2 separate regions of the Homo sapiens genome follow, and region 1 is linked to region 2. Evidence: fine-mapped expression QTL. A gene starts in region 2. The other region holds a variant in brackets. All regions are shown on one strand. Distances are between the middles of the regions.

Region 1 (16,374 bases), 75 kb after region 2:
CCAGGAATCTACCTCCCAACAATGCCTCCAATCCAAGAAAGGGGAACATGGATTTTGGTGAAAAGCTCTCTGTCTCTGTTCTTAACCCATTGCACCTAAGGGGTAAACTAAGCCTTGTCAGTCAAAATTACATTCAATGTCAATTGGATCAGTTGATTAGGTTCATTCTCTGAAATCACTGCAATAATAAATTGAAAATCAACCCAAGTGTACTTCCTCTTTGTGGACTTGTGTTTCTATTTCTTATTATGCTTATCAGTACTCCTCGACTCTTGAGGATCTACATTAAGTTGCTATAACTAGGAGAGCAGAGAGTTGTGGCTTCCCCTCTCTTGAAACTGTACCTAACAGCCCAGCCACCACCCTTGGATGAGTTGAAATAAGAAAAATAAACATCCTTCTGTGTGCAGATGACGTAGTTAGTTATATTGTCCAAAAAGCCCTTAACTGATTCTGAAAGATAAAATTCTGCTTTAGTTATGGCAATGCTAGCTGCTTTAACTAATAATCCCAAAAAGTTAAGATTGACTATTCCAAAACCAAAATTGTTATTTCTGGTAAATGCTCTCCAAAGATTAATTGGGTTAAGTCCTAACAACCATACAGCAAATCAAATAGAGTCACACGCTGCATAATGACATTTCAGTTAATGGCAGACTGCATGTGTAATGATGGTCCCATAAGATGATTATATCATATTTTTACTGTACCTTTTCTATGTTTAGATACATAAATACTTACCACTGTGTTACAATTGCCTACAGTGTCTAGTACAGTCACATGCTGTGCATATTTGTAGCCTAGAAGCAATAGGCTCTACCATATAGCATAGGTGTGTAGTACGCTCTACCATCTAGGTTTGTGTAATACACTCTATGATGTCCACACAATGATGAAATCGCCAAACGACACATTTCTCAGAAAGTATTCCCATCATTAAATGATGCATGACTGTAGTTTGGTTACCTACAGAATATTGGAAACTAGTCCACCCTAAAGGATTCCCTATGGAATTACATTGTTAAAATTACATATTTTATAGTTGTTTGAGAAATTTTAGGTCCATGGCAGAGTTTGATACATCTGCATTAAATGTTTAAAGTAGAAACCGAATTTATTTTAATGGCCATATTTTGACATTAAGCCCTTGGTCTCCGTTGAGAAGCCTTATAAGAAACAGTCTTACAAAACTTCCTGGCTCATGATTCATTAGCACCTCCGAAAAATTCTATATGAGAAACCACAAGAAATATTTCTACTGAAGAAGGAATTGCTATGCTGCTCCTGATAAATCATTTTTTTTAATTTTACTATACAGACACTGTGACTTCAGAGCATGTTTCTTTCTTTATATATTTAGAAAATTCAAAACTCAATTTGTGTCCCACCTCTGGCATACATGTAGGACTATAGATCATGTCTTTTTTTTTCCTGCCCGTGTTTTCTCTTTGTCTTGTTTCTTCACTCGTTATCTTATTTCACCATATTTGTCTGAAAACAATCTAAAATCCCTGAAGGGGCCAGGCATTGTGGCTCACACCTGTAATCCTAGTGCTTTGGGAGACAGAGGCAGGAGGATAACTTGAGGCCAGGAGTTCAAGACCAGCTTAGGCAACATAATGAGGCCTCATTTCTAAAAATGATTTTTTTAAAAAAGTAGCCAGGCATAGTGGTGTGCTCCTGTAGTCCTACCTATTCAGGAGGCTGAGACTGGAAGATTGCTTGAGCCCAGGAGTTCGAGGCTGCGGTGAGCTATGATCGTGCCACTGTAATCCAACCTGGGCGACAGCACAAGACCCGAAGGAAGGAAGGAAGGAAGGAAGGAAAGAAAGAGAGAAAGATAGAGAGAAAGAAAGAAAGAAAGAGAGAGAGAGAGAGAGAAGGAAGGAAGGAAGGAAGGAAGGAAGGAAGGAAGGAAGGAAAGAAGAAAGAAAGAAAGAAAGAAAGAAAGAAAGAAAGAAAGAAAGAAAGAAAGAAAGAAAGAAAGAAAGAAAAAGAAAAGAAAGATCCCTGAAGGGTGGCCAGGAGTGCCAGCTCATGAGTATGAGTCAGACTGACTGAGTTTAAATCTGGCTCCAGCTCTTATTCTCTTGGGCAAGTTAACATGTCAAGGCTCAGCTTCCCCTTGAAATAAGTACTATTTTTTTTTTTGAGACAGAGTTTCACTCTTGTTGCCCAGGCTGGAGCGTAAAGGCGTAATCTTGGCTTACCACAAACTGCGCCTCCTGGGTTCAAGCAATTCTCCTGCCTCAGCCTCCCGAGTAGCTGGGATTACAGACACGCACCACCATGCCCGGAAAATTTTGTATTTTTAGTAGAGATGGGGTTTCTCCATGTTGGTCAGGCTGGTCTCGAACTCCCAACCTCAGGTGATCCGCCCACCTCAGCCTCCCAAAGTGCTGGGATTACAAGAGTGAGCCACCACACCTGGCGAAGTAAGTACTATTAAATATATTATTCCTGCTTACTTCACAGGGAAGTAGGCAGAAGTAAAGGAGAAAATGTGTGGAAACGCTGAACTCAGCACCTAGTACATTGTCCGTGTTCAGAAAGTGAACATGGTGATGATGATGGCGTGATGATATGATAATGTTGATGGTCATCAATGATGATGATGATGGAAGATAGAAAGAAACACCATAAACATTATAAGAAGCTAAGGAATGAAACACTACTACTGCCACCCCACTGGTGCTCATCCTGGCCTTCTTCACCTCAGCACACTCAGGTCCACAAAAATGTGTGCACAGACACAGGCCCATGTAAATGCAGTCCTACATCCTACTGCCGGGCACACAGGTTTACTGCAATGGTTGTTGGGGTGTGTTGTTTGTGTGGATCTATGCACACCTTTGTAAACTGGCATATGTCTGCATTTTCCCCTAATCATAAACAGTATGTACAGGCCACATAGTGCCCTTGTGCTCAGGTTTTTATACTGATTTAAAATCTGCTAACACTTAGATTTCCAAACAGCAAGCTCCTTCTATTTGGTGCTCACTGGAGGTTATTCAGAGAGAAGCCTCAAACCGAAGCTGCTTATAAACAAGCTAAGGGACGCTTCAATTAGTCCTTTGCCTCCAGAGGGATTTTAGTGCTCAGATGGAAACAACTCCTGAACAAACCAAACAGTATGAATCTGCATCCTTAACTAAACACCCGCTCAATGGGGATGGAGGCTGATGCAGGGATAAGTGATTTATAATCATGAACGTGAAGGCACACTGGGTTTACAAAAGCAAAGATGCACAGGTTTCCTCTCATGATTCCCCTTCCTACTTTGAACCCTCTGCTTCTCAGCAGGTCCAAGTTTTCCCCCTTTCAGCTCCCCAAGGCTTTTCTTGCTTCCTTGGCTGGGACATTCAGAGGGCGCTGGTGTGAAAGAGGGGGCATGATCATTAAAACAAAGCTCCAAAGAGAACAGAGTTGTGTTTGTACAACGCTGCACATGCTAGTGTTGGAAGGCAAGCAGCAATTTTCTCTGAAAGCAGCCACGGGGCTCTCTGAAGGTCTTTTTCATGGTCTCCATGGCTACTGGCAGACTTTTTTTCCTCCCTGTCAGAGTGCCAGCCACTCTGCCTCTTTTCATCACTCTTGACTGCAGCCCAAGGGAGGAAGAAAATCATTTCCTTGGGGTCCTGTTCTCTAGTTACCAGGTGGTGTGTTCTGACCTGCAGTGTTTGTCTCACTGCAGCACACTCTAATACAGGCAGCTCCAGGGACAGGAAGGGGAGACGGCTGGTTGTGGGACCATTTTTTCCCACCTGTCACTGCGCTGGCCAGCTCCAGGGCTGGGAACATTCAGAGGGGCCAGCGAAACAGGAAAGCTCATAGGGATGAGTTGTCCCCAGGATGCTTCTAGCTGATCCTTCTCTGAGACCCACCATTCACCTAATGATAATCAGTGGAGACCCAGAAAATAGAAGGTAGGAGCTATTAAAAAATTAATCATTTTATAGAATTTTTTGTTTGTTTTTTGTTTGTTTTGAGACAGAGTCTCAAGCTCTGTTGCCCAGGCTAGAGTGCAGTGGCATAATCTCGGCTCACTGCAACCTCCACCTCCCAGATTGAAGCAATTCTCCGACCTCAGCCTCCCTAGTAGCTGGAATTACAGGTGCCCACCATCATGCCTGGCTAATTTTTCTATTTCTATTACAGACGGGGTTTCACCATGTTAGCCAGGCTGGTCTCAAACTCTTGACTTCAGGTGATCTGCCCACCTTGGTCTCCCAAAGTGCTGGGATTACAGGCAGGCGTGAGCCAGCGCACCTGGCCATATAAAACTTTATTATGGCATGTAAGGGCTATTCCAAGTGCTTTGTGTGCATGGAGTCAAAGTCATGACAGATCCTGAGGAAGTAGGTATTATTCTCTGCATTTTATGGATAAGAAAATGTAGGCACTGGGAGCTCGCCCAAGGTCACTGGCTGGTTGGTATGGAGCAGGGATTCTAACAGTGGCAGTCTGGCCCCAGCATCAGTGCTCTTATGACTCAACACACCACCTGTCTGGGACTGCTCTTGCTGGGGTCCAAGCCTGCTGTACTGGCACCTGAGATGAGATGGGTCTTACATCACTTACTCAGAGATCCGAGGACAGGAGGGAGTCTGAACTTGGCTGATGGGGGTGTAGAATGACTCCTGGGCCATGGTAACACAAAATGAGAGCTCGGGGGAAGCACAACAGAGGGCTGCAAATCATCTAGGAATTGACATAGATGCTGGACAAGTATCTCGCAGGTCACCTCCATACCACAGAACAGCAAGGAAGTCCCAGGCTGGCAATGAGACACCTGGTTTCTGGTTCAGGCTGTATCACTGAGCCACTGTATGGTGGTCTTGGCAAGCCAGGAAGGGCCTCAGGTTCTTTGTTCTCACAACATATGAGAGACAGCCAGAGCCAGAGTGAGGGCAAGAATGCAGGAGAGGGCCTTGATCTGTCTATTTGTGTCCAGCTTTGACGATCAATGGATCTCAGAGACTTCACAGTCAAGTGGAGTTGGGCCACATAGATCATCACATATCAGTCACAGCCATGACAGAGAAGACATGGGAATTAAAGGGTGGCAACTGGAGAAAGTCTAGGGAAAGACTATTTAAACTTGACCAACAAGGCTGGATAGGGTGATTCACGCCTGTAATCCCAGCACTTCGGGCGGCTGAGGATCGTTTGAGTTCAGGAGTTCAAGACCAGCCTGGGCAATATAGTGAAACCCCATCTCTACTAAAAACACTAAAAAATTAGTTGGGCGTGATGGTGCACACCTGTAGTGCAAACTACTCTGAAGACTGAGGCAGGAGGATGAATCGCTTCAGCCCAGGAAGTCCAGGTTGCAGTGAACTGTGATTGTGCCACTGCACTCCAGCCTGGGTGACAGAGTGAGAGCTTGTCTCAAAAAAAAAAAAAATTGACCAAAAATTGACCAACAAGAGATGATGGTTGATGTTCTAACCCCCTACCCCACCCCCACTTTCCCCAAAAGAGCAGGAAAATGTTATCACTTTCTAGACCTAAAGGGGCAAGGAAGGGGCTGTTACTGGAAACTTCTGAGAGCTGCAGTGGTAGCTTAGCTGTAGGAGAGGGGCCACCTGGCAAGAACTGAGGCCTTTGGTAGAGAAATACAATTATTGCCAGAAAGGGAGCTGGCTTCTCTCCCTCCTCCTGCCAGTTCCCCCATCGGCAAAACCCGATAGGAAGCCAAGGGCAAGGGAGCCTGGTTGATGCGGTCCCTAGAAGTCAGCCTCAGAGCAGGGCAGTATAAAGAAGAGAATGGCTTTGAAAGCCAAATAGAGAACTATCTAGGCACACGGTTCATCCCACAACCTTGGGAGGCCACCCAGGATATGACAAGAGGTCCTGCTCTCCCTACCCCCATTCTAATCTGGTTAGAGCCCCAGAAGATCCTGTCTGGCTACAGATAATCTCTGTCTGCTCAGGAGTAACCAAGGATAACCACACTGGACCACAGCTGACCTCCTGCCTTGCCCTTCCCTCCTCCCCCAGTCCCTCAGACCAAATGGGCCCTAGAGAGTAAACAATGGCCAATAATGAGCCAGAGAAGACAGAAAGGAAAGAAAGAAAGGAGAAGCACAGTCACAAGGTAAGCCCTGCCCCCACTCACAAAGCAGCCACAGGGAAATATATCCAGTGGTGAAATAATTGCAAAGATAAAAATTGTGTGACCCAAAATGCAATTATTTTTATATGTCTTCCTACCAAAGGCTACATCTAGAATTCAGAGAGCATAAAAGAGATGTACTGTATGCAGTCATAGCCATTGTCCCTTTAGTGTATGTGACCCAGGGTCTTTCTGCCTGTTGGATCACTCAATCCTTTACACCACTGCGTTACTACCCCTCTGATATACATGAAGATACAGAAACTCAGATCGTGCAGTAGTGAGGTCAGAATTAAACCTCAGCATTATCCTGGCTCCCCAAAAGACTATGATACAACAAGATTGAAACCACAGGCTTCCTGGTTATTTCACCTCCACCGCAAATAACCAGAAGTCCATCTCTATTTAAGCTCTCTGTGTATTACATTTACTGCTAAGGCAATATGATTAGTGGATCTTTCTTTTCTTCTATTGCAAGTAACAATTTAATACTTAGGGCTTTAGATGTCTTCCAATCTGAGAGACGATAAAGATTTGATTGGAGAAGAGACTAAACAATTTCATTTTACAAATAATTCTTCCAAAAGCAATTTCTGAATTTCCTCCATTGACTGCCCATACACTATTCTTTATCATCTTGATGAGTATCCATTGATTAATTCTTTCAGCACCTTTCTCAATTGTTTCCAAGCCTGGCTGTTTACCATAATTTCCTGAATAGCTTTTTTTAAACAGTAGAAGCTGGGCTTCTCCAGACCTACTGAGTTAGAAACCCTGAGTACAGAGTCCAGGTATTTGTGGTTTAAAAAAAAAAAAAATCTCTCCAGGCAATTCTGAGATGGAGCCAGGGTCCAAACTTCTGGGGTTAAGCACTCTAGAAATAACAGCATGTTCCAGGCATGCTCTATATGTTGTATGCATATTAACTCATTTAATCCTCACACTGAGCTGTGTG[A/G]TAGGTAGTTTTTATCACTCCTATCTCACAGATGAGGAAGTTTAGGCAGGAAGAAGGTAAGTAACTTGCCTGAGGTCACAGAGCTCATCAGTGGCAGGGCTGGGATGTAAACCCAAGCCATCTGGCTGCAGAGCCCGGGCCCCTCTCCACTATGCTCGGCTGCCCCCCTCTCCCAGATGGAGCGTTGACTTCAGTCAACTGAGCAGGAGATCCAAGTCAGGTAAGAGCCTGAATCTGAGAATCATTGATAGCTGTTTTACACTGATTACTGTCATCTTGTGCTTAGGCATGTGTGTATTTTACAAAGAATGAGCAAACTTGCAAATACTGACAACCTCCTGGTATAATCTATGCATTAAAAAGGCATGACATATGCAGCTAGGAGTGAAGCAGGTCGAAAGCACTCTGTAAGTTTCTATAAAGTGAATCTTGTGCTTAGGCATGTGTGTATAAAGAATAAAGAATAAGTGGCCGGGCACGGTGGCTCACACTTGTAATCCCAGCACTTTGGGAGGCTTAGGCGGGCGGACCACGAGGTCAGGAGATCCAGACCATCCTGGCTAACACGGTGAAACCCCGTCTCTACTAAAAAATAGAAAAAATTAGCAGGGCGTGGTGCGGGGCGCCTGTAGTCCCAGCTACTCGGGAGGCTGAGGCAGGAGGATGGTGCTAATCCGGGAGGCGGAGCTTGCAGTGAGCCAAGTTCGTGCCACTGCACTCGAGCCTGGGCAACAGAGCGAGACTCCATCTCAAAGAAAAAAATCATAATAATAATTGCTACATGATTTTGGATCTTAAAGGGCATGGCTAGGAGACAGAGGCCTGGTGAACACAATGAGCCTAAAGTTTCTCCATCCCCTTGTGCCCCTCGGGAGTGCTGAGATGAAGAGAGGGTGGGAGAGGCAGACAGTAGCCCTCCACACAGGTGTCTTCTAACCTATCACACTCTTGCTTCTTTTCTGTGGATCTTTTTCCCAGAGAAACGGAAAGGGCCCTCATCTTCATTTGGAGTCTTTCAACTGACGGTTTTTCTAAGGTCATGTTTTTATACCGATTCCAAGAGCACCGTGACTGCCTGTTATTTTGAGCCATTTCTCCTATTTTTTCCTTACAGGCTCCTCACGGTCCTGTTGCAACAGTCGAACATCAGCGAGATTAATCACCAGGACAATGAGGTGAGCCACACTCTCAAGCAACAAGTGGTCATTTTGCATGTGAGGGTGAAAGGAAGGGCGTTTCTGAACCATTGTGCTTCCTCTTAAAAGCTACGGGGAGACATGAGGCATGGTTCTGTGTTCCTACCCTGAAAGGGAGACCTGTTTTCACTATTAATCCTCAGCAGAAACTTATCCCCACCATGGGTGTGTGTAGCTTCTGATAGGGAAGGACTTTATTGCATTAAGTACTTCAGCATTTATCATACGACTGAAATTTTGTAACTTCCCTCTGGACATTGAGAAATAAATATTGCTCTCTCCTGTCTTCTCAAGTCCCAGAAACTTAGTAGCAAGCGGTGGCTCAAGACGTGCTCTCTTTTTTTTTTTTTAAGATGGAGTTTCGCTCTTGTTGCCCAGGCTGGAGTGCAGTGGCACCGTCTTGGCTCACCGCAACCCCCGCCTCCCAGATTCAAGTGATTCTCCTGCCTCAACCTCCCCAGTAGCTGGGATTACAAGCAGGCGCCACCACACCCGGCTAATTTTGTACTTTTAGTAGAGATGGGGTTTCTCCGTGTTGGTCAAGCTGGTCTCAAACTCGCGACCTCAGGTGATCTGCCTGCCTCGGCCTCCCAAAGTGCTGGGATTACAGGCATGAGCCACTGCACTCAGCCTAAGACATGCTCTCTCGTGTAAGATGGCAGAGAGGTGGGTGTAGTGGCGCGTGCCAGTGGTCACAGCTACTCAGGAGGCTGAGGTGGGAGGATCACTTGAGCCCAGAAGTTTGAGAGTCCAGCCTGGCAACAAAGTGAGACCCCCCTCTCTGAAGAAAAAAAAGAAAGAAAAAGGAAAACAATGACAAGACTGGACACTGGCTCATGCCTGTAATCCCAGTGCTCTGGGAGGCCAAGGTGGGAGGCTCACTTGAACCCAGGAGTTTGAGACCAGCCTGGGCAGCAGAGCGAGACTCCATTTCTACAAAAAGTTTAAAAAGTAGCTGGGTGTGGTGGCACATGCCTATAGTCCCAGCTACTCTGGAGGCTGAGGCAGAAGGATCACTTGAGCCCAGAAGTTCAAGGTTACAGTGAGATATGATCACATCACTGCACCCTAGCCTGGGTGACAGAGTGACATCCTGTCCCCCTCCCCTCCAAAAAGAAAAGAAAAAGATGACAGAGAGATAATATTAATAATTCCGGGTTACCTGCTCCAGACATCACATTATTAATCCCAGTGATCGTAACTGCTGTTTAATTCATGTTGCAAGTAGAAGGCTTCCAAAAAGGTCGTTCAACACTCTTCAACAAAGTTCTTGAGGGAAGGTGGCTCAGACACTAAGCAGAGCTGTCCAAGAGTAGCTTAGAGTCTTGTTAGATCTGCTTAACTCTTTTAAAATGCAGTACTAATTTTCCTTAGCCAGGCTGATTTCCTTAACAAGGTTCTTAAAATCAATTTAAATACCTGGTTTTCAATGGAATTTTAAAGTAAATATGTGCTTGGTTTGGTTGCATTTCACTAAGAAAGTCTGATAACATTAAAAATGTACATACACAAAGATGCCGATTACATTATTTTCAAGGAAGCTAGGTGACCATAGGCAAGGGGGCGGGGGTAAGCCTCCTAATCACTTTCTTCTGGGGCAGATGCCCCCGCATCTGCCTTTTTTTTTTAAATAGACAGATTCTTACTCTGTCGCCCAGGCTGGAGTACAGTGGTGCAATCTCAGCTCACTACAGCCTCCGCCTCCCAGATTCAAGAAATTCTCCTACCTCAGCCTCCCAAGTAGCTGGGACTACAGGTGTGCACCACTATGCTCGGCTAATTTTTGTATTTTTAGTAGAGACGGGGTTTCACCATGTTGAGCAGGCTGGTCTCAAACTTGTGAGTGAAGGGGTGGCCTGCCCCTCCATACCTGTGAACGTTTCTCGTCAGGTGGAACGAGAGACTTGAGAAAAGAAAGAGACACAGAGACAAAGTATAGAAGAAGAAAAGTGGGCCCACGGGACTGGCGCTCAGCATAAGGAGGACGCGCGCCGGCTCCGGTCTCTGAGTTCCCTCAGTATTTATTGATCATTATCTCTACCATCTCAGAGAGGGGGATGTGGCAGGACAATAGGGTAATAGTGGGGAGAGGGTCAGCAGGAAAACATGTGAACAAATGTCTCTGTATCATAAACAAGGTTAAGAAAAAAGTGCTGTGCTTTTGATGTGCACATACATAAACATCTCAATGCCTTAAAGAGCAGTATTGCCGCCAGCGTGTCTCATCTCCAGCCCTAAGGCGGTTTTCTCCTATCTCAGTAGATGGAATATACAACTGGGTTTTACACCAAGACATTCCATTGCCCAGGGAGGAGCAGGAGACAGATGCCTTCCTCTTATCTCAACTGCAAAGAGGCCTTCCTGTTTTACTAATCCTCCTCAGCACAGACCCTTTACATGTGTCGGGCTGGTGGACGGTCAGGTCTTTCTCTTGCCATGAGGCCATATTTCAGACTATCACATGGGGAGAAACCTTGGACAATTCCTGGCTTTCCTAGGCAGAGGTCCCTGTGGCCTTCCACAGTGTTTTGTGTCCCTGGGTACTTGAGATTAGGGAGTGGTGATGACTTTTAACAAGCATGCTGCCTTCAAGCATTTGTTTAACAAAGCACATCCTGCATAGCCCTAAATCCATTAAACCTTGAGTCGACACAGCACATGTTTCTGCGAGCACAGGGATGGGGGTAGGGTTACAGATTAACAGCATCTCAAGGCAGAAGAATTTTTCTTAGTACAGAACAAAATGGAGTCTCTTATGTTTACTTCTTTCTACATAGACACAGTAACAGTCTGATTTCTCTTTCTTTTCCCCACAGTGAGTTCAGGTGATCTGCCACCCTGGCCTCCCAAAGTGCTGAGATTACAGGTGTGAACCACTGCGCCCGGTCCACCCATCTGTCTTGAGCCTTCTGATTAAAGGCCTCCCTCTGACTAGCATTAATGACCACATCAGAAAGCCCCTGCTGCTTTCACTCCCCATATCTTCAGTGGTTTAAAGCAAAACCTCAGAGGAAAGAGGGTTGCACTGTTAGAAACTTCTGCTTTAAAGATGAGAACCAGAGATGAGGTAGCACACTCTGGTCACTCTGCCCATGGTGTCGAAGCAGGGAGCTGGAGTGGCGGAGTCCATGTCAGCAGATTGTGAACCTCTAGATTTCAGGGCAAGTTGCCAACTACTTCCTCCACCTCCAACCTCTGGGGTAATCCCTAAACTAGGTCTTATTTAGAAAGATGACAAATTTGCTCATTTATACCCTAAAGCTAAATTCCACTTATAGACCTACAACTCCAGCACCCCTCAGTAGAACTAGCAACCCCCCAGCAAAGACATAGTTCCCTATTTTTCTCCACCCCAGGAGGCACCTGGCGGTGCAGACAATGAAAGCAGACATGGATCTTTCTAAGAGTGGTAATTGTAACACCTTACATAGAATATGTGGTAAATATTGGAAAAGTCCCTGGTTCCTCCTCATGCAAAGGGACTTCTGCAAAAAGATTCCTCCTGCTATTACACCAGCATATGGACCCGTTGGGTTTTAAGCCCAGAAAGCAGACCCAGCAGAGCAAGGGCCTCAACAAGGCACTTCCTACCCATGGTCACAGCTTCCTCTTTGGTCCATTCACAGCCTGCTGTCTGGAATCCATCTGAAACCAACTGCTAATGCTTGCCTGTGTTTTTCATACACATGGACTCCGCCACTCCGGCTGCCTGCTTCCACACCATGGGCAGAGTGACCAGAGTGTGCTACCTCATCTCTGGTTCTCATTTTTAAAGCAGAAGTTTCTAACAGTGCAACCCTCTTTTCCCCTGAGGTTTTGCTTTAAATCACTGAAGATTTAAAACAAAACATAGGGATATATATGTGTATGTATATATTATGTATCCATATATGTATGTGTATGTGTATATATATGTATCTGTATATAGATATATACATGGTTTTGGTTTTTTTTTTTTTTTTGAGGCAGGGTCTCATTCTGTGGCCCAGGCTACAGTGCAGTGGTATGGTGCGATGTCAGTGCACTGTAACCTCCGCATCCTGGGCTCAGGTGATCCTCTCACCTAGCCTCCTGAGTAGCTAGGACTACAGGCAGACACCACCATGCCAGGCTAATTTTTCCATTTTTAGTAGAGATGGCACTCATATAACTCTGAGGCACTCATAATTTTGTTTTTGACTGAGCTCCTGTACTAGGTCAACAGACCAGGCCAAATATCAAAATGGAGTCCCTCATACTTAAATTCCAAGTTACCAAACTGAGACCGAGTTGTTATCTGACCTTCTGAGAAATCAGGAGAGAGATAACACCCAAATTTCCCAAACAGGCTAGTTTTACTTAGCATAATAATGAAATTTCCTCTGCTTTTAATCCTGACAACAAAAAGTAACCTAAAGTAACCTGATGTTAAGCAATCAGTTTTTTCTCTGTTGTTCTGTTTCCCTGTTCTCATCTTTCATCTTTCAAGGAAAGTAACTTTGAAATAACCAATCTGCTTTTTGTTCTTTGCTTCTGCTTTTTTCAGTCCTTCTCTGTCTACAAAACCAACCTCCTCTGCTGGGCTCGTTGGAAAACTTTTTTTTTTTTTTTTAAGACAGTCTCACTCTGTCACTCAGACTGGAGTGCAGTGACACGATCACAGCCCACTGCAGCCTACTGCCTCAGCCTCCAGAGTAGATGGGACCACAGAAACCCTGCACCACAGGCATGCACAACCATACCCAGCTCATTTTTTGTTTTTGGTAGAGACAGGGGTCTTCCTATGTTGCCCAGACTGGTCTAGAACTCCTGGATTCAAGTGATCCTCCCGCCTCAGCCTCCCAAAGTGCTGGGATTATAGGCGTGCACCACCATGCCTGGCCAGAACATTTTGGAATGAAGCCCAGTTCTAGAATTGCAAATGAAGCCAGTTAAGATCTTTGAGGCCCGGCTCCACGGCTCACGCCTGTAATCCCAGCACTTTGGGAGACTGAGGTGGGTGAATCACTTGAGGCCAGGAGTTCAAGACCAGCCTGGCCAACATGGCCAAACCCCGTCTCTACTAAAAATATGAAAATTAGCCGGCTGTAGTGGCTCATGCCTGTAGCCCCAGCTACTCCAGAGGCTGAGGCAGGCGGTGGAATTGCTTGAACTTGGGAGATGGAGGTTGCAGTGATCTGAGATGGCGTGACTGCACTCCAGCCTAGGCAACAGAGCAAGACTCTGTCTCAAAAAAAAAAAAAAAAAACTTTAAAACTAAATCTTCTGCTGTAATTCCGTTTTTGCCAATTATTTATTTTATTTAGTTATTGGTCATTGCTAGTGAGAGCCAATCACGATAAATTTATAACAGCAAAAGCTCTTGCCATTGAGAAATAAATACAATTCTGAAATGGAAAGAACACAGCCCAGGCTTTCTTTTTCATTCATTACTTTGGTGGAGTTCCTGTATTTGGCTGCTCAATGTTTTGAACAAGTAATCTTCTCTCGTCTGTCTTTTTTCAACAAGCTCCAAGCATGATGTAGCCTCCATTGTATGAGGGGTAGCGGGGAGTAACAGTTAAATTCATTGTTTAAAAAAAGGTACCACTCTATGTGTTCTGCAACTTTTTTTTTTTTTTTTTTTTTTTTTGAGACAGAGTCTTACTCTGTTGCCCAGGCTGGAGTGCAGTGGTGCGATCTTGGCTCACTGCAAGCTCCACCTCCTGGGTTCTGCCTCAGCCTCCGAAGTAGCTGGGACTACAGGCACCCGTCACCACGCCCAGCTAATTTTTTTTGTATTTTTAGTAGAGACGGGGTTTCACTGTGTTAGCCAGGGTGGTCTCAATCTCCTGACCTCGTGACCCACCCGCCTCAGCCTCCCAAAGTGCTGGGATTACAGGTGTGAGCCACCACACCCGGCCTAACTTAGTTTTTTCAACTCAAGCATTTGTCTTAGAATTTTTGATACATATAGATCTGGCTCATTCCTTTTTTGTTGTTGTTGTTTTGTTTTTTTCGAGATGGAGTCTTGCCCTGTCCAGGCCGGAGTACAATGGTGCGATCTCGGCTCACTGCAACCTCCACCTCCCGGGTTCACACCATTCTCCTGCCTCAGCCTCCCGAGTAGCTGGGATTACAGGCACCCACCACCACGCCCAGCTAATTTTTGTATATTAGTAGAGACAGGGTTTCACCATGTTGGCCAGGCTGGTCTCGAACTCCTGACCTCGTGATCCACCTGCCTCGGCCTCCCAAAGTGCTGGGATTACAGGCGTGAGCCACGGCACCCAGCCTGTGGCTCATTCCTTTTAATGGCTTCATCATGTTACATAATATCAAAATACCCCCATTTATTTTGCCATTCCCCTATGAATGGATATTTAGGTTGTCTCAATTTTTCACCATCATAAACACCAGTCTAAAGAGTGTTTCTTGTACAAGCCTCTTTGCATACTCTGTGCAAGCATTTCTCTTAAAAGAATAATTGCTGGGTAGTAGAGAGTGTATGTTTTTATTTTTAATACACACTGCCTAATTATTCCCCCAAAATAGCTGCGTGTCGTTGTTGTTGTTGTTGTTGTTGTTGTTTTTAGTGGAAGTACTGGTTTTTTCCCAGTTGTTGCTGGATTTTCTTGTTATTTGCATTTTCCCTGATTAATGAGATGAACATCATTTCATAGACATAATGGTCTTTATTATATCTTCTTTTGTGACTTGCCTGTTTACATTCTTTGTCGATTGATCCATTGGGTTGTCATTTTCTTATTGATCTATAGGAGTTTAGTTTATATGCTGAATATTAATGCTTTGCTGTTGGGTTGTAAATACTTTTTCGTAGGCTGTTGGCTATTTTGAAATAGTTCATAGTACCTTTTCTTATTCAGAAATGTAAAAATCTGATATAATTAAAATGATCATTCTTGTCTGTTTCTGCTTTTTCTTTTGATGTCTTTTTAAAGAAGGCCTTCTCTACCCCAAGAACTGGATTATGTTATGTTAAATTATGTTTTTGTTTGTTACCAGATTTTTTTTAATATATGGTTTCATTTTTGAACTCTTTGTTCTGTTCCAATGATCTGTTTGTTTTTCCTGTTTCATTAACCACACTGCTTAATTATAAACTGACTTATTTAGAAGTTATCCACACTGCGGTTAACACTGAAAAAAGCAAGATAGGTCAGATTGTCCTTTGTGCTTTTGTTCTTCAAAACAGGACCTCAGAAGAATCATTGACATAGAGTGAGGCTTGTCTGTTGCAGCTACCGGGAGTTAAATGGAAACTAACCTCTCCTGCTCTCATTTTAGCCTTGACAGGAAGAGTGTTCTATCAAGAGAGGCTCTGAGCTGTTGGCATCTGGGTTAGAACTTTGAATGCATTTAACCAGAGAAGCACTGTTATGCACAGCATTTAGGATATATATATTGTTTAGGATATATTAAATGCACATTCTTATGTAAGCAGATTTTTGTGAGCAGTCTGACAAACAAAACTTCAATTGTAGAACCACTCTGAGAAAATAAATTTAAGTTGCAAAAACAGATGTGACCTTTTGGACATAATTCTTAGCATCACTTCTACTTACCACATTCCTGAGATAGAACCAAAAGCAGAAGAAACAGTCCCTGACTTGAAATTTTTAACTTTACAGTTAGCAAAAGGTAACATAACAAACAAAAGTTTTTAATGAATCAGAAGTTTTAGCCTAAGACCGAACATCTAAAAAAAAAAAAATGGAGTAGGGTCACCACTACTTAGGAGCCCCCACCTCCCTCTCCCACTCTCCTCCAACCCTATAAACTTCTAGAGGCAGACCATGCCTTTTTTTATCTTTGTATCCCCAGTTTCTAGTTCAGTAGCTTGCACAAAAGCTTTAGTGAGGCACAAAAATTTTTTATATATATATACACACACATATATACATATATACATATATGTGTATATACACACATATACGTGTGTATGTATATGTATATATACACACGTATATATACATATATATACACACACACATATATATATATAGATTTTTTTTTTTCCGAGATGTGGTCTCACTGTGTCACCCAGGCTAGAATGCAGTGGCACTATTTTGGCTCACTGCAACCTCCGCCTCTTGGGTTCAAGTGATTCTCCTGCCTCAGCCTCT
Region 2 (16,374 bases):
AAACAAAGGGATTACAGGCCCCGTGCAAGTCTGAAATCCAGCAGGGCAGTAATTAAACCTTAAATTTCCAAAATGATCTTTGACTCCATGTCTCACATCCAGGTCATGCTGATGCAAGAGGTGGGCTCCCATGGCCATGGGCAGCTCTACCCCTGTGGCTTTACAGGTTACAGTCCCCCTCCTGCCTGCTTTCATGGACTGGCATTGAGTGTTTGTGGCTTTTCCAGGCACGTGGTGCAAGCTGGCAGTGAATCTATCATTCTGGGGTCTGGAGGATGGTGGCCATCTTCTCTCAGCTCCACTAGGCAGTGCCCCAGTGGGGACTCTGTGTGGGAGCTCTGACCCTACATTTCCCTTCTTCATTGCCCTAGCAGAGGTTCTCCATGAGAGCTCTGTCTCTGCACGCAACTTCTGCCTAGGCATCCAGATATTTCCATACATTCTTTGAAATCTAGGTGGAGGTTCCCAAACCTCAATCCTTGACTTCTGTGCACCTGCAGGTGCAACGCCACTTGGAAGCTGCCAAGGCTTGCACCCTCTGAAGCAATAGCCTGAGCTGTACATTGGCTCCTTTTAGCCATGGCTAGGACACAGGGCACAAAGCCCTGAGACTGCACAAAGCAGCAAGGCCCTGTCCTGGCCCCAAAAACCATTTTTTCCTCCTAGATCTCCAGGCCTGTGATAGGAGGGGCTGCTGTGAAGACCTCTGACATGCCCTGAAGACATTTTCCCCATTGTCTTAGCAATTAACATTTGGTTCCTCATTACTTCTGCAAATTTGGGTTTTTCTTTTTCTTTTTTTTTTTGTTTTGTTTTGTTTTGTTTTTTGTTTTTTGTTTTTGAGACAGACTCTCACTCTGTCCCCCAGGCTGTAGTGCAGTGGCATGATCTCAGCTCACTGCAACCTCTGCCTTCAGGGTTCAAGTGATTCTCCTGCCTCAGCCTCCCAAATAGCTGGCATTACAGGCATGTACCACCACACCTGGCTAATTTTTGTATTTTTAGTAGAGACAGGGTTTCACCATGTTGGTTATGCTGGTCTCGAACTCCAGACTTCAAGTGATCCATCTGCCTCGGTCTTTCAAAGCTCTAGGATTACAACCATGAGCCACCACATCTGGCTGGAAAATGGGTTTTTCTTTTCTAGTGCATCATCAGGCTGCAAATTTTCCTAACTTGTATGCTCTGCTTCCCTTTTAAACATAAGTTCCAATCCAAACCATCTCTTTTTGAATGCATAAAACTGAATGCTTTTAAAAGCACCCACATAATCTCTTGAATGCTTTGCTGCCAAAACATTTCTTCCACCAGATACCCTAAATCATCTCTCTCAAGTTTAAAGTTCCAGAGATCTCTAGGTCAAGGGCAAAATGCCATTAGTCTCTTTGCTAAAGCATAGCAAGAGTCACCTTTATTCCAGTTCCCAACAAGTTCCTCATCTCCACCTAAGATACCTCAGCCTGGACTTCATTGCCCATATCACTATCAGCATTTTGGTCAAAGCTATTCAACAAGTCTCTAGGAAGTTCCAAACTTTCCCACGTTTTCCTGTCTTCTTCTGAGCCCTTCAAACTGTTCCAACCTCCACCTATTATCCAGTTCCAAAGTCACTTCCACATTTTTTGGTATCTTTATAGCAGCTCTCCACTCTCTGCAGTACCAATTTATTGTATTAGTCCATTTTCACACTGCTGTAAAAAACTGCCTGAGACTGGGTAATTTATAAAGGAAAGGAGTTTAATTGACTCGCAGTTCAGCACAGCTGGGGTGGCCTCAGAAAACTTACAATCAAGGTAGAAGGCAAAGGGGAAGCAAGGCACCTTCTTCACAAGGTGGCAGGAAGGAGAAGTGCTGATCAAAGGAGGAAGAGCCCCTTATAAAACCATCCGATCTCGTGAGAACTCACTCTCTATCACAAGAACAGCATGGGGGAAGCCACCTCCATTATCCAATTACCTCCACCTGGTCTCTCCCTTGACCTGTAGGGATTATGAGGATTACAATTCAAGGTGAGATTTGGGTGGGTACACAAAGCCTAACCATATCAGTATGTTATTTGTACATCTACGTATGAGGGGTCTTCAAATAGTTCATAGAAAATATGTTTTATGAAAAAACTATGTATGAATTTCAAGTTTTTTACACCAAAATAAACTCATACTAACATATCTGAAATAGACTCATACTAACATGTCTGAACAAGATCTAGTTGAAAGCACTAAGAAGCTTAAGATTTCAGTTTGAAAAGAGCCTCTATCAGAGCAACATGAATTCTGCTAAAAACAAAAACAAATGTTAAATTTATAGTCAAGCTTGAGTGAAGAATGGTGAAATCATTGATCCTTTATGAAAAGTTTATGAGCTCAATCCTGCTAAAATTGAAACAAGAACAAATATTATATTTATGGGGAAGTTTGAGTGGAAGAATGGTGAAATCGTTGATCTTTTATGAAAAGTTTATGAGCTCAACGCTCCCAAAGAAATCAGTCGTTTATCAATGAATAACTCATTTTAAGAAAGGACGAGATCACTTTGGAAATGAAGCCTGAAACAGTAGATCATCCATTTCAATTTGCAAGGAAAAAATTCAACTTGTTTATACCTTAATTGAAGAGAAATGACGATTAACAGCAGAAACAATAACCAATAACATAGACATCTCAATTGGATCAGCTTACACAAATCTGACTGAAAAATTGAAATTAAGGAAACTTTCCACTTGATGGATGCATCAAATAGTAGTTCTGTTTTAATTTATTTGAGAAATCTCCAAACTACTTTCCACAGTGGCTGCATTAATTTACATTCCCACCAATAGTATATAAGTGTTCTCTTTTCTCCACAACCTCTCCAGCATCTGTTACTTTTTGACTTTTTAGTAATAGCCACTCTGACTGATGGGAGATGGGTCTAATTGTGGTTTTTGATTTGCATTTCTCTAACGATTAGTGATGTTGAGCATTTTTTCATATGCTTATTGGTTACGGGTATGTCTCTTTAAAAGTGTCTATTCATGTCCGAGCACAGTGTCTCACTCCTGTAATCCTAGCACTTTGGGAGGCTGAGGTGGGCAGATTGCTTGAGCTCAGAAGTTCAAGACCGGCCTGGCCAATATGGTGAAACCTCATCTCTACAAAACAGTACAAAAAAGTTAGCCAGACATGATGGCATGCACCCGGAGTCCCAGCTACTTTTGGGGCTGAGGCAGAAGGATTGCTTGAACCTGGGAGGTGGAGGCTATAGTAAGTTTAGATTGCACCATTGTGCTCTAGCCTGGGTGACAAAGTGAGACCTTGTCTTGGAAAAAAAAAAAATGTGTCTGTTCATGTCCTTTGCCCATTTTTTAATGGGATTTTTTCTTGTTTATAAATTTGTTTAAGTTGCTTTTAGATTCTGGATATTAGACCTTTGTCAGATGCATAATTTGCAAACATTTTCTCCCATTCTGTAGGTCGTCTGTTTACTCTGTTGATAGTTTCTTTTGCTATGCAGGAGCTCTTTCATTTAATTAGGTACCATTTGTCAATTGCTTTGGTGTCTTTGTCATGAAAGACAACATAGGCATAGGCATATTTGTCAGGGCCTATGTCCAGAATGTTATTTCCTAGGTTATCTTCCAGGATTTTTTATAGTTTTAAGTTTTACTTTTAAGTCTTTAATCCATCTTGAGTTGATTTTTGTACATGGTGTAAGGAAGGGGTCCAGTTCCAATCTTCTGCACATTGCTAGCCAGTTATCCCACCACCATTTATTGAACAGGGAGTCCTTTCTCCATTCCTTGTTTTTGTCAACTTTGTTGAAGATCAGATGGTTGTAGGTGTGCAGCATTATTTGTGGGCTCTCTATTCTGTTCCATTGGTCTATGTGTCTGTTTTGGTACCAGTACCATGCTGTTTTGGTTACTGTAACCTTGTAGTATAGTTTGAAGTTGGGTAATGTGACGCCTTCAGCTTTGTTGTTTTTGCTTAGGATTGCTTTGGCTATTCAGGCTCTTTTGGTTTCATATAAATTTTAGAATCGTTTTTTTCTAATTCTAAAAATTTTTCTAATTTTTCTCTAATTCTGTGAAAAATGTCATTGATAAGTTGATAGGCATACCATTCAATCTGTAAATTGGTTTGGGCAGTATGGCCATTTTAACAATATTGATTCCTTCTTATCCACAAGCATGGAATGTTTTTTCATTTGTTTGTATCATCTCTGATTTCTTTCAGAAAAGAATAATAAAAGAATCTGTTTGAAAGATAATTCTCATTATAGAGCTCTTTCACCTCCCTGGTTAGCTGTATTCCTAGGTATTGCGTATGTGTGTGTCTGTGTGTGTGTATATGTATGTGTGTGTGTATGTGTATGGCTGTTGTGAATGGGATTGCGTTCTTGTTTTGGCACTCAGCTTGGATGTTGTTGGTATATAGAAATGCTACTAATTTTTGTACATTGATCTTGTATCCTGAAACTTTGCTGAAGTTGTTTACCAGATGTAGGAGCTTTGGGGCAGAGAGAATATGAGGTTTTCTAGGTATAAAATCATATCATCTGCAAACATAGATAGTTTGACTTCCTCTTTTCCTGTTTGGATGCCTTTTATTTCTTTCTCTTGCCTGATTGCTCAGTCTAGGACTTCCAGTACTATGTTGAATAGGAGTGGTGAGAGTAGGAATCTTTGTCTTGTTCCAATTCTCAGAGGGAATGCTTCCAGAATTCAGTACAGTCCTGCCTATACTGGGTTGCCCATTCAGTATGTTTTTGGCTGTGAGTTTGTCATAGATGGCTCTTATTATTTTGAGATATATTCCTTCAATGCCTAGTTTGTTTAGGGTTTTAAACATGAAGGGATGTTGAATATTATTGAAATTCTTTTCTGATCTAGTAAGATGATCATGCGGCTTTTGTTTTTAGGTCTGTGTATGTGATGAATCATATTTATTGATTGGCATATGTTGAATCAACCTTGCATGCTAGGGATAAAACCCACTTGATTATGGTGGATTAACTTTTTAATGTGCTACTAGATTCAGTTTGCTAGTATTTTGTTGAGGATTTTTGGATTTATGTTCATCAAGAATGTTGTCTTGTCACCTGAAATAAACTGTTTCTGGTGGTCTTTACTAATAGGTATTGAGAGGAAAAAGCATTTGCCAGAGCAGTAACTGCATACTATGTACCAGAGAGTGTTTTAATTTGCTCAAGGAATAAAACCATATCTGAACAACAGCTGCAATTGGAGTTGCCACCTGGTTAAGCTTACTATAATCCACTGTTATTCTCGAAGATCCACCTGTCTTCTGCCAAATTGGAAAGCATATTGGAGAGTTGAATGGAGATGTGGTGGGAATCACCACCCCTGCATCCTTCAGGTCCTTTATGACCTCTACAGTTCCCCCAGAAATGTCGTATTGCTTTTGGTTTAGTATTTTCCTAGGTAGACACAGTTCTAGTGGCTTCCACTTGGCCTTTCCCACCATAATAGCCCTTACTCCACGATTCAGGGAACCAATGTAGAGATTCTGTGAGCTGCTAAGTATGTCTATTCTAATTGTGCATCCAGAACTGGGGAAATGACCACAGGATGGCATTGGGGCCCATTAGACCCACTGTGAGATGGATCTGAGCTGAAATCCCATTGACCGCATGACCTTCAAAAGTCCCTCCTCTGACTGGCAGGCCACAGTGATATTTTGAGTCTCCTGAAATTAGTGTCAGCTCAGAGCCAATGTCCAGTAAGCCCTGAGAGGTCTGATTATTTCTCTTTTCTCAATGCACAGTTACCCTAGTAAAAAGGCCATACATCTCTTTTGGGGAAAACTGAGAGAAAGATTAACAGTATAAACATTTAGTAGGGTACCAGGGCCTTTCCTCAAGGGCTCCAGCCTCCCCTTCATTTAAGGGGTTTTAGGTTTGTAAACAGGCTCAATTCTGGGAATTAATTGAGGGATCATGATTCTCTGTTTTTATGATTCGTGTTAGACTTTTGTCACTTAACCTAGAGCTTTTCTGCTTATGCAGATTAAGAATTTCATAGGCTTCCTATCTATTTTACTTTGAGAAACGCCATGATCAACTAGCCAATGCCATAGGTTTCTATGACTCAGACAACTCTGATTGCTGCTTGGACCTCTGCTGTCCATTACAGCATAAACCAAAGAGTGACTGAGGTAGATCTTAATTGACTGCAGGTTTATTTTGCCAAGGTTGAGGATGCAACCAGGAAAAAGAAACACAGGTCACAGTGGGATCTGTGACCTGGGCTTTTTCCAAAGAGAGTTTTAGGAACTTCAGTATTTAAAGAGGACAGAGCAAGCAGAAGAGGAGGGAAATAAAGGAGAGAGGATAGGCAATGAAACAAGTGGTCACCTTTTTGTGAGGCTCTGATTAGCACTCAGTGAGTCTACATATTACATGTGGAAAGAGGGAATAGAGTTGGCCGGGCGTGGTGGCTCATGCCTATAATCCCAGCACTTTGGGAGGCTGAGGTGGGCAGATCACCTGAGGTCAGGAGTTTGAGACCAGCCTGGCCAATACGGTGAAACCCTGTCTCTACTAAAAATACAAAAATTAGCCGGGTGTGGTGGTGGGGGCCTGTAATCCCAGTTACTCGGGAGGCTGAGGCAGGAGAATTGCTTGAACCTGGGAAGCAGAGATTGCAGTGAGCCGAGATCACACCACTGCACTCCAGCCTGGGCAACAGAGCAAGACTCCGTCTCAAAAAAAAAAAAAAAAAAAAAAAAAAAAGAGGGAATAGGGGAAAAAGCAATTACACATTTCTCTCATGCCCAGTAACTCTACATATGATAAAGTCAGCATGTGAAAATACAGCTATCTGTTTGGGAACGAAAGAAGACAGCTTTTTGCATGACTCAGTTCTCAAGCTTAAATTTCCCTGTGGCATAGTGAATTTGGGGTGCCATGATTCTATTTTTTTTCCACAACAGTAACTATGCCCACCTTGTCTTTGGCAGTTGAGTACCACCACTTAGCCCTACCATCCTAGGATCCAATTATTCCCACTGCATTTAGGTTTCCCAATTCAATGACTGCAGTTCTCACTGTCTGCAGAGAAGAGCAATCACAGAACTCTTCAAAGATGCTGGGGTTCCCCTCACAGATTTATTCCTATTCCTCACGGTACTGCTAAAAGTATGTCTTCTAGACCCTCCAGTGTGGGTGAGTAGTTCTTAAATGACAAATCCACTCTGACATTCCAATCTCCCTAAGCCTTTGAATCTCTTCCACATTAAACCAAGGCAAGTCCAGTATTTCCAATTTGCTCACCCTGGGCCACTTTTTGGTCCATGTTTCAACCCACTAACCTGACTGTTAGAACACTTTATAACTGCCTGAGCTGCAACAGTAAATGCAGAATTTCTGCTTAATTAGTTAATATCAATAAATTCAACCTGATCTAACTTTATGTTCCTTTCACCATTATTTCACTCCCTTAGTATCCATTCCCATGTTTCCTGGATTTTTAGGAAGTTCAAGTAATTATTTTGGAATATAATGTACTTCATGGGTCACACTTTGCACCTCACCTTTAGGGGCTGCTGGGACTTGAGTCTAGTTATAGGTCTAGAAGCAGAGGAACAATGGTGGTGGCTCCTGAAGAGAATCAGCATTGTTGTGCACGGCAGCTGCCTCAAGGAAGGCCAATACAGTTTCCTCAGGCAATTCAGAGTCAATCTTCTCAGACTGAGGTGAAAAGGCTGCTACCACTGGAGATGGGGAGGCTGCTTCTACTAGGGATTGGGAGTCCACTTCCACTGGCAAAGAAGACTCCTCAGAGTTTAGATGCTCAGTGTCCCCCAGCTTCATCAGGGTCTTCTCACATGTCTCTATCCAATTTACAGTATCCTCTACTTTCCCAATCAATGTCCTCACTTTAACAGCAGACATCCTGTGAAGCTGGGAGTTTGACTTGCGCTGTAATTCAGGAGTTCAATTTGCATTGTAATTCAGGCAGCTGCAGCATGAGAGCCTGCATTTGATTGCAGCATCCTCAGCCTCATGGCTACAGGAGGTAAGACTCTCCTTCAGGGTACACATACACACCTCCAGGTCATCTATATGGCACCTGAGCTGGGAATTAGAATCCGTGAGCTAATCCTTTTCTTTCATCACTTTGTCCAGTGACATTAGGAGCAACCAGCCATATTCATTAAGTTTCCAAAAATGTTTGAGGGTATCATCTACACAGTCACCCAACTCCTTGCCTGTTGTGTCCAGTGATTAATTAGGAATATTCAGTGCAGCTTTTTGCATATCTCTATTACCACTTCACACCATGGACTATCAATGCTCTCTTTACTCCTAGAAATAAAGCTATTAGAATCCTTAAATTTAATCAGATTTGAGAGCCAATTCCAGAAACCCTAGAACCAATCCTCAAGTACATGGTTTCTTGTTTAGACTAGAAAATTTCAAGGACTACAGAAGTTCTTGTCAGAAAGTTCTTACCCCATGAAGGATGGTTAATTGGGTTCCAATGTTACAATGTCAGTGAGCAGGTTGTCAGCTTGAGCAAGGAAAGTTCTTCAGTGAAGTTTCACTCATGCACTGAAATGTACTGAGCACCTCCTTTGTGCCCCTCTCTGTGCTAGGCTGTAAGGACATGGAGTGGACAAAGCAGACAAAGAAAGAGTAGACAAAGACCCTGCCCTTATGAAATGTACCCTCTTGTGGAGAAATATTTTAATTTGGGTTTCCGTAAAAGCAGACCCTGAGACAATGATTCCAATGCAAGTAACTTATTGAGAAGTGCAGGAAATATCAGTAGGAACGTGGGAAAGTAATACAGGGAGGGAACAGCAGCCCATAAAAAGAACGTTATTAGACCTATTCTCACAGGTGGCAGTGGAGTTTAACCCTGAAGGAGTTTAATCCTGAAAGGGAAATGGCAAACGGAGTAAAACACCATGCCTCAGAATCATCCTATCCAAGGGCAAAGGAAGCTGGTGTTTATTATTAGATTCAACAAGCATCTACTATATGGCTATTTGACTTATCCAAAAATCTGGTTGTGCCTAGAATATAGAACTTTGTTTGAATTTAGTATATCATATTTTTATTACAAATACAAGATAATAGATACTGGTTATTAACAAGCCAAAAATACAGAGATTGATACAGAACAAGTTAGAAATCTCCTACTCTAATCACAGTGGCCTGAGGGAACCAATATTAGCAGTTTAGTACGTATCTTTCTACATCTTTTTCAGTGTTCGTCTGAATATATAAAAATAATGTATACAGTGAGTGGTTTCCGGTTTTATTAAAACACGAACAAATGAAATATATAACTTGTTTATTTCATTTAACAATAGATTAGTGACATGTCACCAGATAAATACACAGATTTATTTATGTCAGATTTTTAAATCTAGAGTACGAATTTACTACCATTTACTTAGCTGCTCCCTGAATGAGGTACATTCGGGTGATTTTTCAGGTTTTACTACATGTAATGCTACAATAAACACCCTTGTGACAGCAGACTGTTTTAATTTTATCACCACAGACACTCGAGCCTTGAAATGTCACCTTTCAAATGACGCCTTTCCCCATCCTCCCTGTCAATTGGAGAACGGAGCTGAAAGGGGAGTGAAGAAGACTGCCAACATGGATAATTACTCCACACAGCACATGGCCAGCAGCCTCCTGCTACAATATTTACATCCTATTCCATTGAGATGGCACTCTCTGCTCACATGACCCAAATGCAGTTCTCACTCCGCCAAAAGCACAGCCGAATGCGAACTGCATTGGCAGCTTTGCACATGCTCTGTCTGGCCCTGTGAATCCTCACTCACCCATTCAGATTTCTGTTGGTGTAAAGCGACATTCCAGCTGCTGAAGCTCCGTGATCTGCTGTGTTTTTCCAGCCCAGATCCAAGGCAGGTGGCCCATACAATTTTACTATCTTTTTGGAGTTTGAGTAATTGTGTTTATTGATTTGGGGGTGGAGGGTGTATTATGCCCATGTACAGCTGATGAATGAGGCCATAGAGTAACTCTTTTCCTAGCAGGTATTTACAGGAATAGCATTTACCTATTTTCATCACCTTGCCTTGACAACAACCTGCAGCTCTGATGCACATTTAATCCTGAAACAGAGGTCTTGGCAAACGATGCTGCCTCTGACTGTCATGTTGACAGTAAGGTTTGAGATGGTGTTTTCTCCTCTCTAGAGACCTGGATGCTTTTTGCCATTCTGATGGTAAATGATGAGACAGGCTACCATGGATTTCAGCACCCCTTCTGTGTTTGATCAGCAAAGAGGTAAAATGCTGCTTTAACACATTCTTTGGTTGTTAGCATCCTTAGTCTCATGGTATGGATTTACAGTTGTAAGGAGAGAAAGAGAAGTGTGTGTGTGTGTGTGTGTGTGTTCATGTGCGTGGGTGTGCATGAGTATTTGCTATGTAGGATGTGGAAAGAGGATTTCACCTAGAAAACAAACCTGTTCAAAATGTTCACTTCTAGTTTGATAAGCATCTGAAACAGAAAAATAAGCTTATGATCTGTTGTATAAGCTTATGATCTTGTTGAAGTATTCCTACCTTCAAATTTTAAAAACTGGATTTCAAGCACACCAACTATTTCAGATAGTGTCATCTTTATTCTGTTTTTTCCAAATCTTTTTTAAAAATTAGGGTAAGCAATGTAAGAACACATCACATTTTTTTTGTCATTCGATTAGCCCAGTATCTCATTGCTGTATCTTCGTAAGCATTTTTTTATTCCTTTCAGGAATAGATGTTGCCTGTATTTATGTCGGGTTGATATGTTATCTCATCCAAGGTTGTGTAATGACATATCCCTATGCTATTATTTGCAATGCCAGGGTATATCTTCCTTACTTATAATTTCTGGAGTGGAGGTAATTTTCCACATCAAAATGTTGCTGTGAGATCAACTTATCCTTATAATATCACATATTTGGCCATGTGGTCTATGTGTATACATTTTGCATATGCAATGTGTTTATATACATCTTCGTGTAATACTTATGTGTAATAGTAAATCTTTTTTTAGTATAAACATGAAATTTCCATTTTATAAACATAATAAATATTTTTTAGAATCTTTTCTTAAATATCTATTATTTAAACCACTTTCTACAGTCTCTGAATATTCTTCAAGATCCTAAGTTCCTTTGGTGATTTTATCTGTTTTGGCTACAACATGAAATGGTGGTTTGAAAAAGCCTCATTAAGAAAATGTACTGCTTCATTCTTTTTTCCCTTTTCCTGCTCTAGGCCATAGCATGTTTATTACCCCTCAAGCTACATCTGGCTTTGTGGGTGAATTATTTTAGCCCAGGGGGTTTCTCCAAAAATAAATTTATATTTAGATTCCTGAGTTAGCTAATGTATATATGTGTATAGTGTGTTCTCCAGGTCTTAGCTCATTTGGAATAGTGTTTGTGTATGTGTATGTGTGTGTGTGTGTGTGTGTGTGTGTGTGTGTGTGTGTGTGTGCGCGCCTTCAGAACGTGCCGGCTCATACCGTGTTTGGATCTGAACAGCATAGAGAAAGGCGTTGTCACAGCTGTGCCCACCACCATCCTCTCCTCCTGGTACATTTTATATCACTGATGGCAGTCAGTAAAAGTGAAAATCTGCTAAGAACCAAAGAGCTCACACTGGCTGAAAAATGATGTTGCTAAGCCACGAAACATACAATGGGTTTATTTTTGAAGACTAATTGGAGGGAGCTGGGACTGACTGAAGAAGAACTAGCTCTTCATAATGAATTTACATGTTCCAGTGCTGTACCTTCTAACAGGATTGAGCCCCAAACATAGTTAAGATACAGAATTACAAGACTGATTTTCTTTTAACACCTTTCATGTGAGCAATTCACAGCAATTCCTCCACCTGGGCCGGATTCTCTCCCATGGAAGTTAACCCTCTCCCTGCCATCTTTATCTCTATTTCTCAATCCTTTCTCTCTTTCTAGAGGTTTTATCATATGATGGAAAGAGCATGGGATTTTAAATCTTATAGACGTAGATCAGAATGGCAGATCATCTACTTCTTAGCTGTGTGACCTTGGCAAGTTACCTAACCTCTCTGGGCCTTAGTTTCCCCAGGAATACAATGAAGGAAATGATGCTTACCTAGCAGGGTTGTTGTGAGGATCTAAAATAATAACATATAAAAAGCACCTGTTAGCAATGCCTGATATTCAATAAGTATTTTCCCATTTTGGCTGCAGCTGTTATTATTATTGCTGTTGTTATTATCACCTTGGACTGGGAGTTTCTGAAGTGCAAAAGACTACTCATCTCTCTACCTTCAGCCTGAATGTAGCAGTCCTCAGATCAAATGAGGGCTTAGTGCTGGATGACTAAATTACATTAATTATTTTTTTCAGAACCCTAGGATACCATTTATAGCAAGACCTAGAATAATAATTAACTAAGCCATTCCTGAATAGTTTTATTACCCATTAATCCTTCCTCTTTCTTAAAAGCATGAAAGACCATGAGGGTTGAGACCATTATACAGATTTTAAATACTATATTGTTGGACAAACCAAAGGGAGGTGACTTTCTCGGGAAAAGTTGAACATGGGGCTTTAGTTGAGGGTTTTTCATGAATCGTTACTGTCTGGATAAGTGAACCCTAGCAGTACTGTCTTTACATGCAGATGGGGACAGAAGACATTGCAGCTGGAAGAATCTTAGCAATCAAGTAACCTGTTGGTTCTCACATTGGCTGTACTTAAGAATCATCTGGGCCGGGCGCAAGGCTCACGCCTGTAATCCCAGTGCTTTGGGAGGCCGAGGTGGGCAGATCCCAAGGTCAAGAGATCGAGACCATCCTGGCCAACAGGGTGAAAGCCTGTCTCTACTGAAAATACAAAAATTAGCTGGGCATGGTGACACACGCCTGTAGTCCCAGCTACTCGGGAGGCTGAGGCAGGAAATCGCTTGAACCTGGGAGGTGGAGGTTGCGGTGAGCTGAGATCAGGCCACTGCACTCCAACCTGGCGACAGAGCAAGACTCTGTCTCAAAAAAAAGAAAAAAGAATCATCTGAAGAAATTCTGAAAATGCTGATGCTTGCATCCCACCCAGGGAGATTCCAGTTTAACTGCAGTGGTTGGCCCAACCAACACTCCTTGGGAAGTTCTCATGGACAGCAAAGATGCAGAACCAGTCATCCAACCTACCCCTCTTCCACATTTCAGATGAGGGAACTAAAGCACAGAGAGGTTCAAAGTTGGGTCCTTCCTAATAATAATAACAACACCCCACTAAATAGCAACAGAGGGGACTGAGGCCCAGGTGTTCTCCATCCATACAACAGGGCAATAGGAAGCTTCCTGCACATGGCCAATCCCTGGCCTAGCACTGACTCTGGCTCATGGCTGCCCAGAGAATGGTGGAAGAATATGATGCAGAAGGACCTTCAGGGCTCCAACGAGGTGGGTTTGGTAAGACTGAACCCCTCCACATGCATTTTCCTATATTTCTCTTTAGCTAGAGGCAACGAGGCATGCCAGGGTCTTGGTGACAGATGGTCATTTGCTCAAGTCCTGTCTCTGCCCTCTTCCTAGTTACATGAACTTGCACAAACTAGTTGATCTCCACTGGCTTCTGTCTCCTTGACTGTAAATGTGGATAATACTATATTACATATTCACAGAGCTGCTGGAAGGCCCAACGATCAGATCATTTGACTGGCCAGGGGCATGGTCTCTGGCTGGCTTTGCAAAACTGTGAGGGAGGAAGCCTGGGTCTTCAGAACTCTCGACTCTCTTTTGTGCCTTCAGCTTTCACCATAGCAACATCTCTTCTGGTCCCACGTGTTCTTTCCAGCTGTGTTCCCTCTCAAAGCCCACACACGCAGGAAGCGACCTGTAGTAAAGCCATTTACTACAGAACACAGAGGTTCCTGCTAAAGTCTACATATTATGTAACTGAAGATACTTGCATTGTAAGCTTTGTCACGACTTGTGGAAAGAAAAGTTTTGCTGCGCCTGAAAGAATCCCAAACCTGAGAGAGAAAACAGGGAAAAAAAAAAAAAAAAACAGGCGAGGGGTCGGCGGGAGGTGGGGGGATGGGTAGCCTCAGGGCCTCACCCACTCTTCTGTATTGTTGGGGGTGAGGAGGGCCTGGCCGTGCCAGGGTCTCTGAGGAAATATGCCTGACGAGGCTGAGCGGTGTGTTTGCACACACCTGTGTGGGCTGTGGTCCACCCTCTTGCACAGGTCGTTTCTCTTGTCGAGTTGCTGGAAAAAGAGAGGAAGGGCTTTGTCTTCTAGCCCAGATTAATAGAGTGTGTGATTGTCTCTGTGCTGCTGTAACCAATTATCACAAGCTGGGTAGCTTAAAACAACAGAAATTTATCCTCTCACAGTTCTGGTGCCCAAAAGTCTGAAATCAAGATGTCAGCAGCAGGCCGGGTGCAGTGGCTCATGCCTGTAATCCCAGCAGCTTGGGAAGCCAAGGTGGGCAGATCACCTAGGATCAACAGTTTGAGACCAGCCTGGCCAACATGGTGAAACCCTGTCTCTAGTAAAAATAAAAAATTAGCTGGATGTGGTGTCATGCGCCTGTAGTCCCAGCTACTTGGGAGGCTGAGGCACAAGAATTGCTTGAACTCAGGAGGCGGAGGTTGCAGTGAGCCAAGATCGCGCCACTGCACTCCAGCCTGGGTGACAGAGTAAGACTCCACCTCAAAAAAAAAAAAAAAAGTCAGCTGGGGGCCTTCTCCTAGAACCTTTAGGAAAGAATCTTCCCTGGTCCTTCCAGCCTTGGCTGCTGTGGCCTCATCACTCTGGTCTCTGCCACCATCTTCACTTGGCCTCGTCTGTGTGCATCGCTCCTCTGTGTACCTGTTTCAAAGTTCCTCTGCCTCTCCTTTAAGGATGCATGTGATTGCATTTAGGGACCACCCAGATAATCCAGGATAAACTCCTCCTCTCAAAGTCCTTGGCTTAGTCACATCCTTTCAGATATAAGGTCATAGTCACTCTCTTGCCATGTAAGGGAATAGCCACAGGTTCCAGGATTAGAGGTTAGAACATGTCTTTAGGGCCACCATTCAACCCATTGCAGGGAGTGAGAAGAGGTCAGATCCCAGAAAGCACGCAACACTGTGACTCGGTTTTTGGTAAAATCCATTCTCATTTAAGCTAGGAGAAAAATTGGCAAGTAAGAGGTGGGGGAAGCGGGGAGCATCTGTTTGGTGCAGACTCTGTGCAGGGCTTTACATGGATACATATTGACAAGAGCGAATGTTTATGGAGCATTTAGCAGATCCAGGCTCTGTCCTAAGGACTGCACACAGACTAGCTCATATAATCCTCATATCAGCTTCACATATGACCCCCTTTTATCGATGAGGAAATTCAAAAAGGTTATGACCTACCCAATGTTGTCACAAAGTAAAACAGCAAAGCTAGGATTCCAAGCTAAATCTGTTTCACTTCAAAACCGGTGTTCTTTCTACTGCAGAATGTCTTTTCCTTGGCCAGCAATAAGGTTTAATAAAAAAAAAAAAAGACATCAATGGAAAATCAAATTAATGAAACATTTATTTTCACAATCAAGCTCTTATTCCATTGTGTTGTGGATTTTTAAAGTTCCCACGCACAGATGTGCAGGGGTTTTTTTGTTTGTTTTTTGTTTTCTTTTATACTTTAAGTTCTAGGGTACATATGCACAGTGTGTAGGTTTGTTACATATGTATACATGTGCCATATTGGTATGCTGCACCCATTAACTCGTCATTTACATTAGGTATATCTCCTAATGCTATCCCTCCCCCCTCCCCCTACCCCACAACAGGCCCGGGTGTGTGGTGTTCCCCACCCTGTGTCCAAGTGTTCTCAATGTTCAGTTCTCACCTATGAGTGAGAACATGTGGTGTTTGGTTTTCTGTCCTTGCGATAGTTTGCTCAGAATGATGGCTTCCAGCTTCATCCATGTCCTTACAAAGGACATGAACTCATCCTTTTTTATGGCTGCATAGTATTCCATGGTGTATACATGCCACATTTTCTTAATCCAGTCTATCATCGATGGACATTTGGGTTGGTTCCAAGTCTTTGCTATTGTGAATAGTGCTGCAATAAACATACATGTGCATGTGTCTTTATATCAGCATGATTTATAATCCTTTGGGTATATACCCAGTAATGGGATGGCTGGGTCAAATGGTATTTCTAGTTCTAGATCCTTGACAAATCACCACACTGTCTTCCACAATGGTTGAACTAGTTTACAGTCCCACCAACAGTGTAAAAGTGTTCCTGTTTCTCCACATCCTCTCCAGCACCTGTTGTTTCCTGACTTGTTAATGATTGCCATTCTAACTGGTGTGAGATGGTATCTCATTGTGGTTTTGATTTGCATTTCTTTGA

The links. PIP is the estimated chance that this variant, and not a neighbour inherited with it, causes the effect.
Region 1: its variant is fine-mapped to the expression of ANKRD55 in whole blood (TOPMed, PIP above 0.99).

Annotation. Positions count from the first base shown.
Region 1 is chr5:56,151,707-56,168,080 of GRCh38, reverse strand. ANKRD55 (ankyrin repeat domain 55) reads left to right here. Exons shown (of 12, transcript NM_024669.3): 6 at 8,188-8,248. Among named protein-coding and RNA genes, the nearest start is that of ANKRD55, 73 kb to the left of the region's middle. RefSeq lists enhancers at 7,222-8,017, 10,408-11,203 and a silencer at 11,194-11,363. The variant A/G (reference allele first, on the strand shown) is at 7,074.
Region 2 is chr5:56,226,757-56,243,130 of GRCh38, reverse strand. ANKRD55 (ankyrin repeat domain 55) reads left to right here and starts at 9,801. Exons shown (of 12, transcript NM_024669.3): 1 at 9,801-9,890; 2 at 10,185-10,275. The coding sequence starts at 10,218. RefSeq lists an enhancer at 1,776-2,975.